Linked DNA regions of Homo sapiens. The protein of the gene in region 4 purifies or fractionates together with the protein of the main gene of each other region. This does not show direct contact. Each region holds a gene or a part of one and is shown on either strand. Other genes may lie near its edges.

Region 1 (3,500 bases), on a different chromosome or scaffold from region 4:
CTCGGAGGTATTTGGAAAAATCAGCAGATGATGATATTACCATCTATTTACATCATTCTTCAGACCTACCTACTAGCCTGGTAACTTTATCCAAAAAGGAAATAAGGTGAGGAGGGTATGGCTGCTTTCATGTTCCCGTGCTGGGGTTTACTACATAAAGTTGTATTGCAATTTTTCACTTACATGTTGACACTAGCTGCTTGGTAACCCTTTTAAACATATCTAGTTCATGTTCATTATAGAAAATTTATAAAGTGTAGATGAGCAAAAATTTTTAAATCCCTAAACCCCATTTCCCAGAGAAGGGAACCACTTTTCACATTCTGTATACATCCTTCTAGGTTTACACAACCATACACAATCTTTTCAGAGGCTGATTAGCCTTTGAAACTCATCTAAGAATTCTGCTAAAGCACAACATCAAATTTAATAGCTAAATCCCCCAAAAACACCTTCTCCAGTTCTTAAAACCAGGAAGTCTGCTCATCAATCATCTCTGGTGCTATCATGCAAGACTACCATGTGCAACTGTACAAGCTGTACAGGGCACAATTGTACCCAATAGTTCTGCATACTGATTTTCAATTGCTTCACAATGTTCTACAATTTGAAAAATCACAACCACAGGTTTTGCCACTATCCAGGCATACAATGTATTTAGGCCTACTTGTCTATAGGAGCTATGTGATTGCTAAATATCTTCACATCTTTCTCAAACACAACTTTGCTAACCTTTGTTTTAAAGCCATTATTCTTGGGTTGGGGGGATGGTGGGATTAGGTTAATGGGAGTGAAAATATGTTGTTTCTTTCTATTATCACTATACTATCTATTCTAAGCACACTATCCCTTCATCCTTTATAATCTGGCTCCAAATAGTTAATTATTTTGTTTTCAACTCTTTCAATTTACTTCAACATTTTGGACAATTTAACATTATTTGGAGTTTGGTCTTCTTGGTACCATTCTCAAAGGTTTCACAGGGACTCACTCTATCACCCAAGTTGGAGTACAGTGGCACAATCATGGCTCACTGCCACCTCAAACTCCTGGGTTCAAGCAATCCTCCCACCTCAACCTCCCAAGTAACTAGGACTACAGGCACATGCCTCCACACCCAGCTAATTTTTTTTTATCATTTGTAGAGATGAGGTCTCACTATATTGCCCGGGGTGGTCTCCAACTCCTGGGCTCAAGCAATCCTCCTGCCTTGGTCTTGAAAGTGCTGGGATTACAGGCGTGAGCCACTGCGCCTGGCTGCCTTTCTTCCATCTTCTATGTTTACTTAAAATCAGGGAAATCCAAGGATAATCACGTGGGGTTCTGCTTGTGCCTCTCCATCACTAGGATTGACAAATTATTCATCAGAATTTCAAACTGCAGAATCCGTCAGCCTTCTTTTATCACATTTTTGTTCAGTCTCTAGCCGTGGACTAACAGACTTAGCTCTTTCAATCTTTCTAACGCTGGGGTACTTATCTATCTTCCTTTTCTGATTTCTACACTTAATATTAGAACATAGCTAATTACAGCATCTCACTCTGTTGCCCAGGCTGGAGTACAGTGACATGATCATGGCTCACTACAGCCTTGACCTTCCAGAATCAAGTGATCCTCCTGCCTCAGCCTCCCTAGTAGCTGAGACTACAAGTATGCACTACCATGCCAGGCTAATTTTTTTTAAAAAAAATTTTAGTAGAGACAGGATCTCACTATGTTGCCCAGGCTGAGAACATAGCCACTTTTAAAGTAATGTAAACTTCACATCATTAACCCAAATCCTCCTAACTGGTTATAAACACATCTCAAACTAATTCCTCTCTAGAACCCTCTGCTCTCTGAAAGGTGAAACAAATGGCAAGACAAGGATGCATTAGGGGCTGCATGGTGGCTCACACCTGTAATCCTAGAACTTTGGGAGGCCAAGATGGGCAGATCGCTTGAGTCCAGGAGTTTGAGACCAGCCTGGACAGCATGGCAAAACTCCATCTCTACTAAATATACAAAAATTAGCCATGGTGGCACACGCCTGTAATCCCAGCTACTTGGCAGGATGAGGCGCGCGAGAACCACTTGAACCTAGGAGGTGGCGGTTGCAGTAAGTGGAGATCATGCCACTGCACTCTAGCCTGGGTTACAGTGCAAGACTCTGTCTTTTTTTAAAAAAAATAAAAAATAAAAAGAATGCATTAGATACTCGCCTTTTCAAACCTCAAAGGCTGCAACATCCCCATCATCTGTGACGGGAAAGCAGCACCCAAACCTTCAACCTATCTGGGTGGTCTATAAGCCTGTGTGGTTGTATCTGACTCAACTCAGGGTTACTGATTTTCAAAACAACAGCAAAAAGAAAAGATCCCCCCAATCTTCTCCTGACCTACAAAATCAGAATCTCTAGACGGTAAGGCCCAGGAATCTGGGTGTGGTTTTTTTGTTGTTGTTGTTGTTTTTGGAAACAGATTCTCACTCTGTCGCCAGTATGGAGTGCAGTGGTGGGATCTCAGCTCACTGCAACCTCCACCTCCTGGGTTCAAGCGATTCTCCTGCCTCAGCCTCCCGAGTAGCTGGGACTACAGGCGCACACCACCATGCCCAGGTAATTTTTGTATTTTTAGTACAGATGGGGTTTCACCATGTTGGCCAGGATGGTCTTGATCTCTTGACCTCATGATCCACCCAACTCGGCCTCCCAAAGTGCTGGGATTACAGGTGTGAGCCACCGTGCCCAGCCAGGAATCTGTATTTTTAAGAAGTGCCACTAGATAATGCTGAAGTATTAGGAACTATTGGTTTATAGCAATGATATCCCTTTTAGTCCTCTTTGATTCCCCCATCAATTGCTCACAACTAGGCTATCATGAGTTTTTACAGAAATAAATCCCTTACTAATACTTATTTCTTCCTCTTTCAAATGCCATCAGTCCAATTAAGCAACATCTCAGTGATATCTATGAGATTTGACCTATTTCCTTTGTCTGATACTTTAAATGCATTTCCTCCTTCTATGAGGCAGCATGTTTTAGTCTTGTGAAAAACACACTGCCTGAAAGTCAGAAAAACTAGGTTGCATCTCAGTTCTGTCAACTGCTAGTTGTGTGACCTTAAGCAGATCAGTTTTCCTTTTAGGATCTCAGTCTTCCATAATATCAGAATGATATTAAATGTCTGAAATAAATTACATCATATAATCTTCACAATAACCTTCTGAGATAGGTACTCTACATACCCTCATTTTACATAGAGGGAACCTCCCAGTCTTGCTGCGAAAGTTTAAAAAACAGCATACGTAAAGAGCTAGGTAAATAAGAAGTTCACTCAAGAAATATCAGTCTTTGTTCTACTCTCCCCCAAATCCTCTCAGCAGATATCAATGGACAAGGCCGATACACAATATTCTTCTTGTTACCTTCTGCAGAAAAAATACTACGCATCTCCTCCAGCAAAAAGCTAACCCCCCCCCCTTTATTTTCTTGGTATAAGTCTCATGGCCCCTTAAATGT
Region 2 (3,500 bases), on a different chromosome or scaffold from region 4:
CATTCAGCTATGGACTGAATTTCAGCTCCACATGGTGTTTAATTAGATTGAGAAACTTTCACTACATCTTTCACAAAAGATGCATTATCTTCTAGCCAGCCTTCACAAAAACAAATCTGACACATGAAAACCATGTTTGTAAAAATTTTAAGTTGGGCAAGAACTGCTCTACAAAAGGAGTTAATGTAAGACTCCTCTAGAAAGCAAGCTTTACTGACACACCCAACTCACAATGCAATTTTCACAAAGCCTTTTAGAAATCATCTTCCATACACAATGAATTTCTTCAATAGAATTTTACTTTGTAATCAGAAAGTACTATTCGTTAAACTTGAAAATTAGTATTTAATTTTTTATGTATCCAATTAATATTTAATTAAAAATTTTATATTATGAAGAACTACAAACCCAAGAAAAGCTTATTTTCTTCAAATAATCTCTACAATTGTAATTTTTATTATTTTTGAGATGACAAAATATCAAAATACACATTTAAATCTACAGTTTTAGCATTAAACCATAATATAATCAACCCAATTTATATTAAAAGTAAAACTTGAAAAATTTAATAAAAATTCCTCTTAGCAGGGTCATAATAAATATTTTGCAATAAGATATGCCAAGAGAGCAAAAAAAAAAAAAAAAATCACATCTCCTAAATTTAAGTATATTAAAACCAGGTAAAATAAAAAACATCTTTTTTTTGTTTTCCTCTTTTTTGGTAGAGGTGGGGTTTCACCATGTTGCCCAGGCTAGTCTTCAACTCCTGGGCTAAACCAATCCACCTGCCTTGGCCTCCTAAACTGCTAGGATTTATAGGCATGAGCCACCACGACCAGCTCAAAGAAATCTTTAAAAGACAATCATAATTTCTTCAGTCATTAAACTTTTCTAGTACTTCTTTTAGTATATTTTTCTCACATAAACACTGCGTTTTCATTCTTTTAATGAAAATAACACACAGAGCCAAGTTCCTTACCAGTATAATGAAATCATTTTACCTGATACAAGATGCTTCTCTGATAGCATGATTTTTGTTACGGGACTTCGGTGAACTGTGAAAGTCTGAAAAAGCTGAGGACCTGACCCAACTGTCTCTGGGTGTTGTACAATCACTCGTACTGCTCCAGAGCTCGTACCATAGGCGATCTCGATCCAGTTACCACTGACACCTATATAAAGTCAAGAGTTGACAGGTGATACATTATGGAACGATAATAAAAAAGCTACCCTCGCAAAGCTTCCCTATGATAAAATAGGCAGAGCTGGATTCACTGTTTATATCAGCCCCAAATCCAGTTCAGTAAAAAAAAAAATCTTAAGACTTCTCCGGTCATCTTAAAATCATTATTTCCTTGATAAATCTTTTCCTAACCCTCACTCCAAGACGTAACTATTCACCTCCTGCCTTGCACTATTAGGTTCTATCACAGTAATTATAACACACTAATTCTGTACTTATTTCTATGTCTAGCTACTTCTATTCCTTATTGACAAAGACTGAATCATAATCATCTTTTTATCTGTCACCTCACAGAGTGCCTGAGACACCGCAGGTACTCAACATAGTTTAAAGAATTCATAAATCTGCCATGCCAAGAACACTACTGAAACAGCATAGTATTCCAAAAGCAATATTCCTTATTATGTCTAGCCTAGAATTACCATCTGCTTTACTTAAACTACAATACTAAATCATTCTCAAATAATCAAGCATTAAATATACTATTTAAGTTTCAAAACACTGTGCTAGGGAATAAACATACCCATTACATTGCTTACATCATACTTAAAATATGTTGTTTCTTCTAATCATCTAAGGTTCAGCTGTGTCTTTTGTTTTCTTTTTTTCAAAAAGTGCCCAGACCCCATTGCAAATTTAGATAGGAAAAAATTCAGTGACCTATACTCTTAAAAGCTTCATGGATAGAGAACATCTTAGCTTTACTGGCTGTTCTAGTTTTACTAACTGATTCATCTGAAAATACTTGAATCAAAGGAAAAAAAGCATGTCATGAAAAACACCTCCTAGAACCAGAAAGATGACTCCATTTTTCATGCCTTAAAATCCCCCTGCCACTACAAAAGAAGTGCTTTGATTTGTAAAACTTTCCCAGTTTTATGCCTGCCTTTTAACTAGATTTAAAAAAAAAATCCACAGCTCATTCTAGAGCAGGGGTTGGTACACTTTCCGTAAGGGGCCAAGTAGTAAACATTTTAAACTCTGCATGCCACACTGTCTCTGTCACAACCTCTCAATTCTGTCATTGTGGCATAAAAACATCCAAAGACAGTGGTATCAAAAAGAGCCAGCTTGGCTAGAAATCCGTGGTTTACTAAACCCTATTTCTAGAGCAATACAATTTAAGTCCTACTATGGTTTCAGTCAAATTCATAGGTATACTCTTGAATATTTCTTTCATACTAAAAATTATGGTTTCTTTTAATAACTTAAATGAAATGATGACTTATATAAGTAGCACATCCAAACCTATTAGTATTACTGAATACAAATTGTTTCTTAGAACTCCTTTCATTACAGATAAATTTTAAATTTCCCATTTGTGCTTATCTTTTACTCCAGAATACAAAAATTCTTACTACTTTACAGAACTAGTCTGTTACTTTTATTGCAATGGCCTCTAAAATGCACTGAAAGTTATAAAATGCCTTTTTTCTACAGCTTAAATTTTTAAATTCCCAAGAAAATAAGCTTAGTTTCCAGCAGTAGTCTAAGAACTTTTTATTTTTTAAAAAGCTCCTAATTTTTAAGTGAAAAATTAGTTATTTTAATAGGAAGACAAATGTGCAGAATTTTTTTTTTTTTTGAAATTTCAGCTAACATTATAATAATATGGCTCAACAAATGCAATTCAGCGTAAGGGGAGTTCCAATTTTCCACCTCAAATTATGTTTGTTTACTGGTCATGTTTGACTTCAGTATAAAACTGAATACAAATTTTAGACTTAGTAGAGATGAAATCCTTAGGCACTGCAGTTCTCAAAAAGAAATAAACCAGTTTAATTTGACCTAGTCACATAATAAACTAATGAATAAAAAGATAAAAAGTCAAGAATGTATATAATTGGCCATGTACTAACTTGTTTTGGGTGTGAGGTAAACACTCAGAGCAGTAATAGCATCATTTGAAGGATCATGATACAGTTCAGTTACAAGAAGATCATTATCTTTCATTCGCAAGGGGAACTTCTGCATATCTAAAACATAAAAATTTTAAACAGCATTAAAATAAATAGCATATCTATTTAAAACTGAAAGGTAATGTTTTCTTGTTCTCATTTAAAAAATTACATTAAGCAGGAGCATTTTAAGTGACTGAACACTTACCTATGTAATATATTGATCCATTGTTACATCCAAGCAGAAGGAATGATCCAGCAGTGTCATAACTAGTTATAGGAACAACATCTTGAACCTGATGTAGTGAGAGTATTATCAGATGTTAGATAGTAATTATAATTTCTATTTTCTGGTCAAT
Region 3 (3,500 bases), on a different chromosome or scaffold from region 4:
GGTTTCTCCATGTTGGTCAGGCTGGTCTTGAACTCCTGACCTCAGGTAATCTGCCTGTCTCGGCCTCCCAAAGTGCTGGGATTACAGGCATGAGCCACAGCACCCGGCCATTTAGCTCTTTTTATATGTTGAACATTAAGATAAAAAGATGAGTTTCTATTATAACTGGGGAGGCAGGTACTTAAAAAAAAAAAGAAACTAATAATTTATTTTCCTTTGACCTATTTGTACATGAAAAAAACTAGTTGTAGGCTGGGCATGGTGGCTCATGCCTGTAATCCCAGCACTTTGGGAGGCCGAGGCAGGTGGATAACGAGGTCAGGAGATCGAGATCATCCTGGCTAACACGGTGAAACCCCATCTCTACTAAAAAAAAAATACAAAAAATTAGTCGGGTGTGGTGGCTTGCGCCTGTAGTCCCAGCTACTCAGGAGGCTGAGGCAGGAGAATGGTGTCAACCAGGGAGGCGGAGCTTGCAGTGAGCCAAGATCACGCCACTGCACTCCAGCCTGGGCGACAGAGCGAGACTCCGTCTCAAGAAAAAAAAAACAAAAAACTAGTTGTAATTTATTGCCCATTGAGGACCAAGTAGAAATATAAGTAATGCCTGGCCGAGGTTGGGGATGAGGCAAATGGAGCAAAGCTATCTAATCAAAGTTTCTGCAGTGATTGAAATGTGCTGTATCTGTGCTATCCAATATGGTAGCTAGTAGCCACACTTGAACTGTAAGTAGTAAGACTGAGAAAATGAAGTTTTAAATTTGAGTTAACTTAAATTTAAATAGCCATGTGTACCTAGTGGCTACTGTTATCAGACAGCAAAGATCTAGATGATGCGATACTTTCCCACGGGCTTGGAATCCTGGATTGTAAGAGTGGGGCTCTTGTATTTGTGTTTTGACCAAGTTTGATAATTCTAAGTCTGAATACTGCTCTCAGAAATAATTTGAGTCTTTCATGCTTTCTTCTTCAGTTAGGAGCTCTTTTACCACACTGTTGCCCTTTTTTTTGAGACAGTCTGGCTGTGTTACCCAGGCTGGAATGCAGTGGTGTGATCTTGGCTCACTGCAGCCTCCGCCTCCCAGCTTCAAGCAATTCTCCTGTCTCAGCCTTCTGAGTAGCTGGGACTACAGGTGCACACCACCTCATCCAGCTAATTTTTGTGTTTTTAGTAGAGACGGTTTCACCACATTGGCCAGGCTGGTCTCGAACTCTTGGCCTAAAGTGGTCTGCCCACCTCAGTCTCCCAAAGTGCTTGGATTAGAGGCGTGAGCCTCCGCCCGCGCCCACCCCACCCTGTTGGCCTTGAGACACACTAGTCAGGCCCTTCCTTAGAGGACTGAAGTTTCTGCCGCCAGGCAGTCAGATCAGAATATTGGTTAATTTTAGGGCTGGGCATGGTGGCTCATGCCCGTAATCCCAGAGCTTTGGGAGTTCTGAGGTTAGGAGCTTGAGACCAGCCTGACCAACATAGTGAAACCCCATCTGTACTAAAAATATAAAGAATAAGCAAGGTGTCGTGGTGCATGCCTGTAATCTCAGCTACTCGGGAGGCTGAGGCATGAGAATCGCTTGAACCGGGGAGGCAAAGTTTGCAGTGAGCCGAGATCATGCTGCTGTACTCCATTCCAGCCTGGGTGACAGAGTGAGACTTAGTCTCAAAAAAAAAAAAAAAAAAAAGGAATATTGGTTAATTTTAGTTACATTCGATATCAGATGAAGGAAATGTTTAGAGGGCTCCAGATACACTCTGGGGGCAGAAACCTTAGGAGTGAGAACTAAGAACGTTGTGTCAATACAATGTATCTTCCAAATACAAATATGGAACTCTTGTTTAGGCAGGCCAACAGGAGGGAGCACCTTGCCTAGCTGAGGCTGGCTCAGAGAGTCCCAGCTTTGCTACTCTGTATCCTCACTGTCCTTCCAATCTTTACTAAGCTTAATTGCAGAGTACAGCATAGGGATGGGGAAACTGGATTGTCCCAGTTTTATCTGAACTATTGCTCAGACTAAAGGATGTTTGTTTTAAAGTGTTCCTTCTAGCTTCCCCTTTCTGAATTTTTATTGTTATGATCCTACTTATACTAGGAATTTTCTTCTCATTTCTCTTGTTTCTCAGACAACCTCATCAGCCTTGAAAGGTGCCATCCAGTTAGGCATTACCCACACTGTGGGGAGCCTGAGTACCAAACCAGAGCGTGATGTCCTCATGCAAGATTTCTACGTGGTTGAGAGTATCTTCTTTCCCAGGTACAGAGTTTAATGTTCAGGAGCATGTCCTGGAAATGTGGCCTTTTCAAATCAGCCCAGGGCAGTTTTAGGGGTTCAGGTCGGACAATTTAGACATGTGTCCATTTCTTAACCTGGTTACAATCAGGGCGATGTGGGACTAGAGAGTTCGGAGAGCAGATACTGTCCTCTAGATGCTTCCATTAGCCTCTGTCCTATGGATTGACCCGTAAAAAACAACCTAATGCATTGGATAGGAGGCAGTGTGATTTCTTCTTCTTCTTATGTCTTGCTGTCCATGCTGTGCCATTGTCTCACTAACTCATCTAAGAAGGGCTGTGATTATCTTAGGAGGAATGTATTCCCCCACTCCCCCCACCATGAGGTGACTCTGAGTGTCTTCGCAAGGTAGATTCTCTGGATGATAGGGACTGGCAAGTTATGGCTACCTCTGTTTAACCCCACAGTGAAGGGAGCAACCTGACCCCTGCTCATCACTACAATGACTTTCGTTTCAAGACCTATGCACCTGTTGCCTTCCGCTACTTCCGGGAGCTATTTGGTATCCGGCCCGATGATTACTTGGTAAGCATCTGGATATCAGGACACTGTGACTCCAGTATCAGAGGGATATTCCCAAAGGAAGGCCCCTTTTCTCCACAGTCTCGCTCTGGTTTTTATTTAGAAAAGAATTGCATCTGTAGTTGATTTTTGTGTTGGGCAAGGCCCTGATGTGTCTAAATCTCTTAGTTCTTCTCTGTTTGCCCCAGTATTCCCTCTGCAGTGAGCCGCTGATTGAACTCTGTAGCTCTGGAGCTAGTGGTTCCCTATTCTATGTGTCCAGCGACGATGAGTTCATTATTAAGACAGTCCAACATAAAGAGGCGGAATTTCTGCAGAAGCTGCTTCCAGGATACTACATGGTAAGGGAGAGAGAAGCACTGTCCACCTGTGCTGCTCACTTCTGGGCAAGGCTGGGGAGGCTGTCTTCAGCAGGGTAAAACAGTGTCAGCACTTCTATCTTAAGAGTGTAGTTCAGGCCAGGCACGGTGGCTCATGCCTGTAATCCCAGGACTTTGGGAGGCCGAGGCAAGAGGATCACAAGATCAGGAGATCAAGACCATCCTGGCCAACATGGTGAAACCTCGTCTTTACTAAAAATACAAAAAATTAGCCAGGCGTGGTAGCGGGCGCCTGTAGTCCCAGCTACTCAGGAGGCTGAGACAGGAGAATGGCGTGAATCTGGGAGGCGAAGTTTGCAGTGAGCCGAG
Region 4 (3,500 bases):
AGAATTTACTTATGTAACCAAATACCACCTCTTCCCCAATAACCTAGGGAAATAAAATTTTTTGGAAAAAAGAATATGTGGGATTTTTGCATTATTTCTTGTAACTGCATGTGAATCTACAATTTTCTTTTCTTTTCTTCTTTTTTTTTTTTTTTTTTGATGGAGTTTCACTCTTGTTGCCCAGGCTGGAGTGCAATGGCATAATCTTGGCTCACTGCAACCTCTGTCTCCTGGGTTCAAGTGATTCTCCTGCCTCAGCCTCCCGAGTAGCTGGGATTACAGGCGCCCACCACCATGCCCGGCTAATTTTTGTATTTTTTTAGTAGAGACGGGGTTTCGCCATTTGGCCAGGCTGGTCTCGAACTCCTGACTTCAGGTGATCCGCCTGCCTCGGCCTCCCAAAGTGCTGGGATTACAGGCGTGAGCCACCATGCCCGGCTGTGAATCTACAATTTTCTATTTTAAAAACAGTAATGAAAAAAATCCCCAGGTGATTCCATTACGTAGCTAGAGTTAAAAAAAAAAAAAATCAGTAAACTGGAGAATCTCAAATTCCTACCAATTCTGAGACTACAAGCTATTTTAAACTTAAGCCACTGAAAGGTTATTAGGAATGTTTATCATTTACAGGTATAATGTTTTGCAAAGCCAAAAGTAATTAATTTACGGTTAATCCAAAATAAAAAATCCAAAACACTATGTTCTCCCAATAGCATACAAAAAGATTGGATAGAAAGGCATTATACAATAGCTGTAATTTACCTCTTAACAGAGAGAGACAGAGACAAACAGCCGGCCTCTAAGATAGCCCCCAAAGACCCCTGCCTCCTGGTCTTCACATCTTTGTATAATCCCCTCCGATTGAGTATGGGCTGGATTTGGTTATTCACTTACAACAAATAGAATATTGCAAAGTGATGCGACGTTACTTCTGAAATTAAGTTATAAAAACTTTGTGGCTTCCATCGTATGGGCCTTTTCTCTAAGATCCCTCACTCTGGAGGAAACAAGCTACTGTGTTGTCAGCCACTTTATGGAGAGGCCCACATGGCAAGGAACTGATATCTCTGGGCAACAACCAGCCAGTGAAAATCTGGCCTGGTCACAGCCAAATGAGTGAGCTCGGAAGGGGAAGCTTCCCCAGTCAAGCCTTGAGGACTGCTACCCAGGCCAGACACGGTGGCTCATGCCTGTAATCCCAGCACTTTAGGAGGCTAAGGCGGGCAGATCCCTTGAATTAAGGTGTTCAAGAGCAGCCTAGGCAACATGGCAAAACAAAAAAATACTGGTCTCTACCAAAAAACCCACAAAAACAAAAAAATAAGCTGGGGTGTGGTGGTGCACATCTATAGTCCCAACTACTCAGGAGGCTGAGGTAAGAGGATCACTTGGACTCAAGAGGTGAGGGTTGCAATGAGCCGAGATTATGCCATTGCACTCCAGCCTGGGCACCACAGCAAGCCTCTGTCTTTAAAAAAAAAAAAAAAAAAGAGAGAGAGAGAACTGCTACCAAGCCGTCACCTTGGTTGCAGCCTTGTAAGAGACCATAAGCCAGAGGCCCCCAGGTAAGCTGCATCCAGAATTGTGACTCACAGAAACTATGATATAACAGATCCTTGTTTTTTTAAGCCACTAAGTTTTGGGGTAACATAAGGCAAAAGATAACCAATCTACATAGTTACCACAGGTCAACCCCAAAAGAATCTAATGTGATGACTTCTGCTTACCTTTCATCACAGTATTTAATCTCCCAGGTTCTACATTATTATCCAGCATTTATAAGCTCCATTCTACTTTAGCTGATTTCACCATTACCCAAAAACTCTCCTCATTCTCACCTCATTCAGTTCCTTAGAATGACTTCCTCTTTTTTATCCACCCAAATCCTAGCCATCTTTGACAACACCTACAGAGGTCTCTTCCATGAGTATCTATTACTATCCACTTATTTAAATTACTCACTAACCTAACAGCTTTAACTCTAAGAGATTCTCAACTCCTTAAGAATAAGTCTTCTCATATTCCTTTAAACAGGACTTTATATCTATCCAGGACTTTATATCTCTTCCAGCATACTAATAAATTAGAAAACTCAACATTCTATATTAAAAAAATCTAGGACTGGAAGGGAAATCAAGAACTCCAATCTAGAATGTCAGATGTCACTAGTTTAGTTTGTCTATTTGAAAATACTGGCCGGGTGCAGTGGCTCATGCCTGTAATCCCAGCACTTTGGGAGGCCAAGTCGGGTGGATCACCTGAGGTCAGGAGTTCGAGATCAGCCTGGCCAACATGGTGAAACCCCGTCTCTACCAAAAATACAAAATTAGCCGGGCGTAGTGGTGGGCGCCTGTAATCCCAGCTACTCGGGAGGCTGAAGGAGGAGAATCGCTTGAACCCAGCAGGCGAAGGTTGCAGTGAGCCGAGATGGCGCCACTGCACCCCAGCCTGGGCAAGAGAGAAAAGACTCTGTCTCCAAAAAAGAAAAGAAAAGAAAAGAAAATACTGAGTAAAGACCACCTTAGCTGAAGGATAGCATAGCATGAAGGATAGCATCTACGATGACAAACATCTTCCAACCCTATGATTAGCCTAGTAAACGTTGCCTAGGTTCTGGAAATTTTCCCATTATTACCTTTTTTTTGAAGTAGAGTCTCCCTCTGTCACCCAGGCTAGAGTGCAGTGACACTATCTCAGCTCACTGCAACCTCCAATTCCCAGGTTCAAGCAATTCTCCTGCCTCAAGTCTCCCAAGTAGCTGGGATTACAGGCACAGGCCACCACGCCCAGCTAGTGTTTCACCATATTGGCCAGGCTGGTCTCAAACTCCTGACCTCAAGTGATCTGCCTGGCACAGTCCCCAAAGTGCTGGGATTACAGGTGTGAGCCACCGTGACTGGTCCCCTATTATTAGTTTCTTAAACAATTTATCTTCCCTCATTAACCCACCTCTGTAGTAATCTATCACTACACGTAACACATAGAGAAACACTGCTATTAAATTTCAACTACATCAGCAGTTCTCAAACTTTAGCTTGCATCACCATCACCTAGAAGGCTTGTTAAAACAGACAGCCAGACCCCATCCCCAGAGTTTGATTCATAGGACTACTGCCATAGCAATTCAACAAGTCAGTGTAATTTAAACTTACAGCTCAAGGAGATCAGCTGGGAAAATATAAAAGTCCAAAAGAAATAAATCTAAACTATATCAAACACTTTAATAACTTCAAAACACATGTGCCTGCACACATCATGCACAGGCTTGTACACCCTCTTCCTCCTCTCCCAATTAATGAACATAACCACAATATGCACACCTGAATTCAATTTCTTGGAAAAAATGAACATCTCCAATTAACTGAGGTTTTTAAAATGATGTTAAACGAATAAAACACTTAATGTAAAAAAGGACCAACCTAGTATTTCAACTCCCTCATTTTCAGTCCCAGATTAAAAACAAAACAAGGCCGGGCAAGGTGGCTCACTGTGATCCCAGA

What was found. The genes of interacting proteins can lie anywhere in the genome.
Region 1: the proteins of ARIH1 (region 4) and FBXW11 purify together in Homo sapiens (affinity purification with mass spectrometry; 8 studies listed by BioGRID and IntAct, with this or other methods). This does not show direct contact.
Region 2: the proteins of ARIH1 (region 4) and KCTD3 purify together in Homo sapiens (affinity purification with mass spectrometry; 3 studies listed by BioGRID and IntAct, with this or other methods). This does not show direct contact.
Region 3: the proteins of ARIH1 (region 4) and PIP5K1A purify together in Homo sapiens (affinity purification with mass spectrometry; 3 studies listed by BioGRID and IntAct, with this or other methods). This does not show direct contact.

The regions. Positions count from the first base shown.
Region 1 is NC_000005.10:171,902,139-171,905,638, forward strand, and holds part of FBXW11 (F-box/WD repeat-containing protein 11), read right to left. Parts: intron 1-3,500.
Region 2 is NC_000001.11:215,601,804-215,605,303, reverse strand, and holds part of KCTD3 (BTB/POZ domain-containing protein KCTD3), read right to left. Parts: intron 3,438-3,500; coding exon 3,350-3,437; intron 3,220-3,349; coding exon 3,103-3,219; intron 1,173-3,102; coding exon 1,002-1,172; intron 1-1,001. UniProt on the Homo sapiens protein: Accessory subunit of potassium/sodium hyperpolarization-activated cyclic nucleotide-gated channel 3 (HCN3) up-regulating its cell-surface expression and current density without affecting its voltage dependence and kinetics.
Region 3 is NC_000001.11:151,229,552-151,233,051, forward strand, and holds part of PIP5K1A (phosphatidylinositol 4-phosphate 5-kinase type-1 alpha), read left to right. Parts: intron 1-2,119; coding exon 2,120-2,250; intron 2,251-2,696; coding exon 2,697-2,814; intron 2,815-2,999; coding exon 3,000-3,152; intron 3,153-3,500. UniProt on the Homo sapiens protein: Catalyzes the phosphorylation of phosphatidylinositol 4-phosphate (PtdIns(4)P/PI4P) to form phosphatidylinositol 4,5-bisphosphate (PtdIns(4,5)P2/PIP2), a lipid second messenger that regulates several cellular processes such as signal transduction, vesicle trafficking, actin cytoskeleton dynamics, cell adhesion, and cell motility.
Region 4 is NC_000015.10:72,480,830-72,484,329, reverse strand, and holds part of ARIH1 (E3 ubiquitin-protein ligase ARIH1), read right to left. Parts: intron 1-3,500. UniProt on the Homo sapiens protein: E3 ubiquitin-protein ligase, which catalyzes ubiquitination of target proteins together with ubiquitin-conjugating enzyme E2 UBE2L3.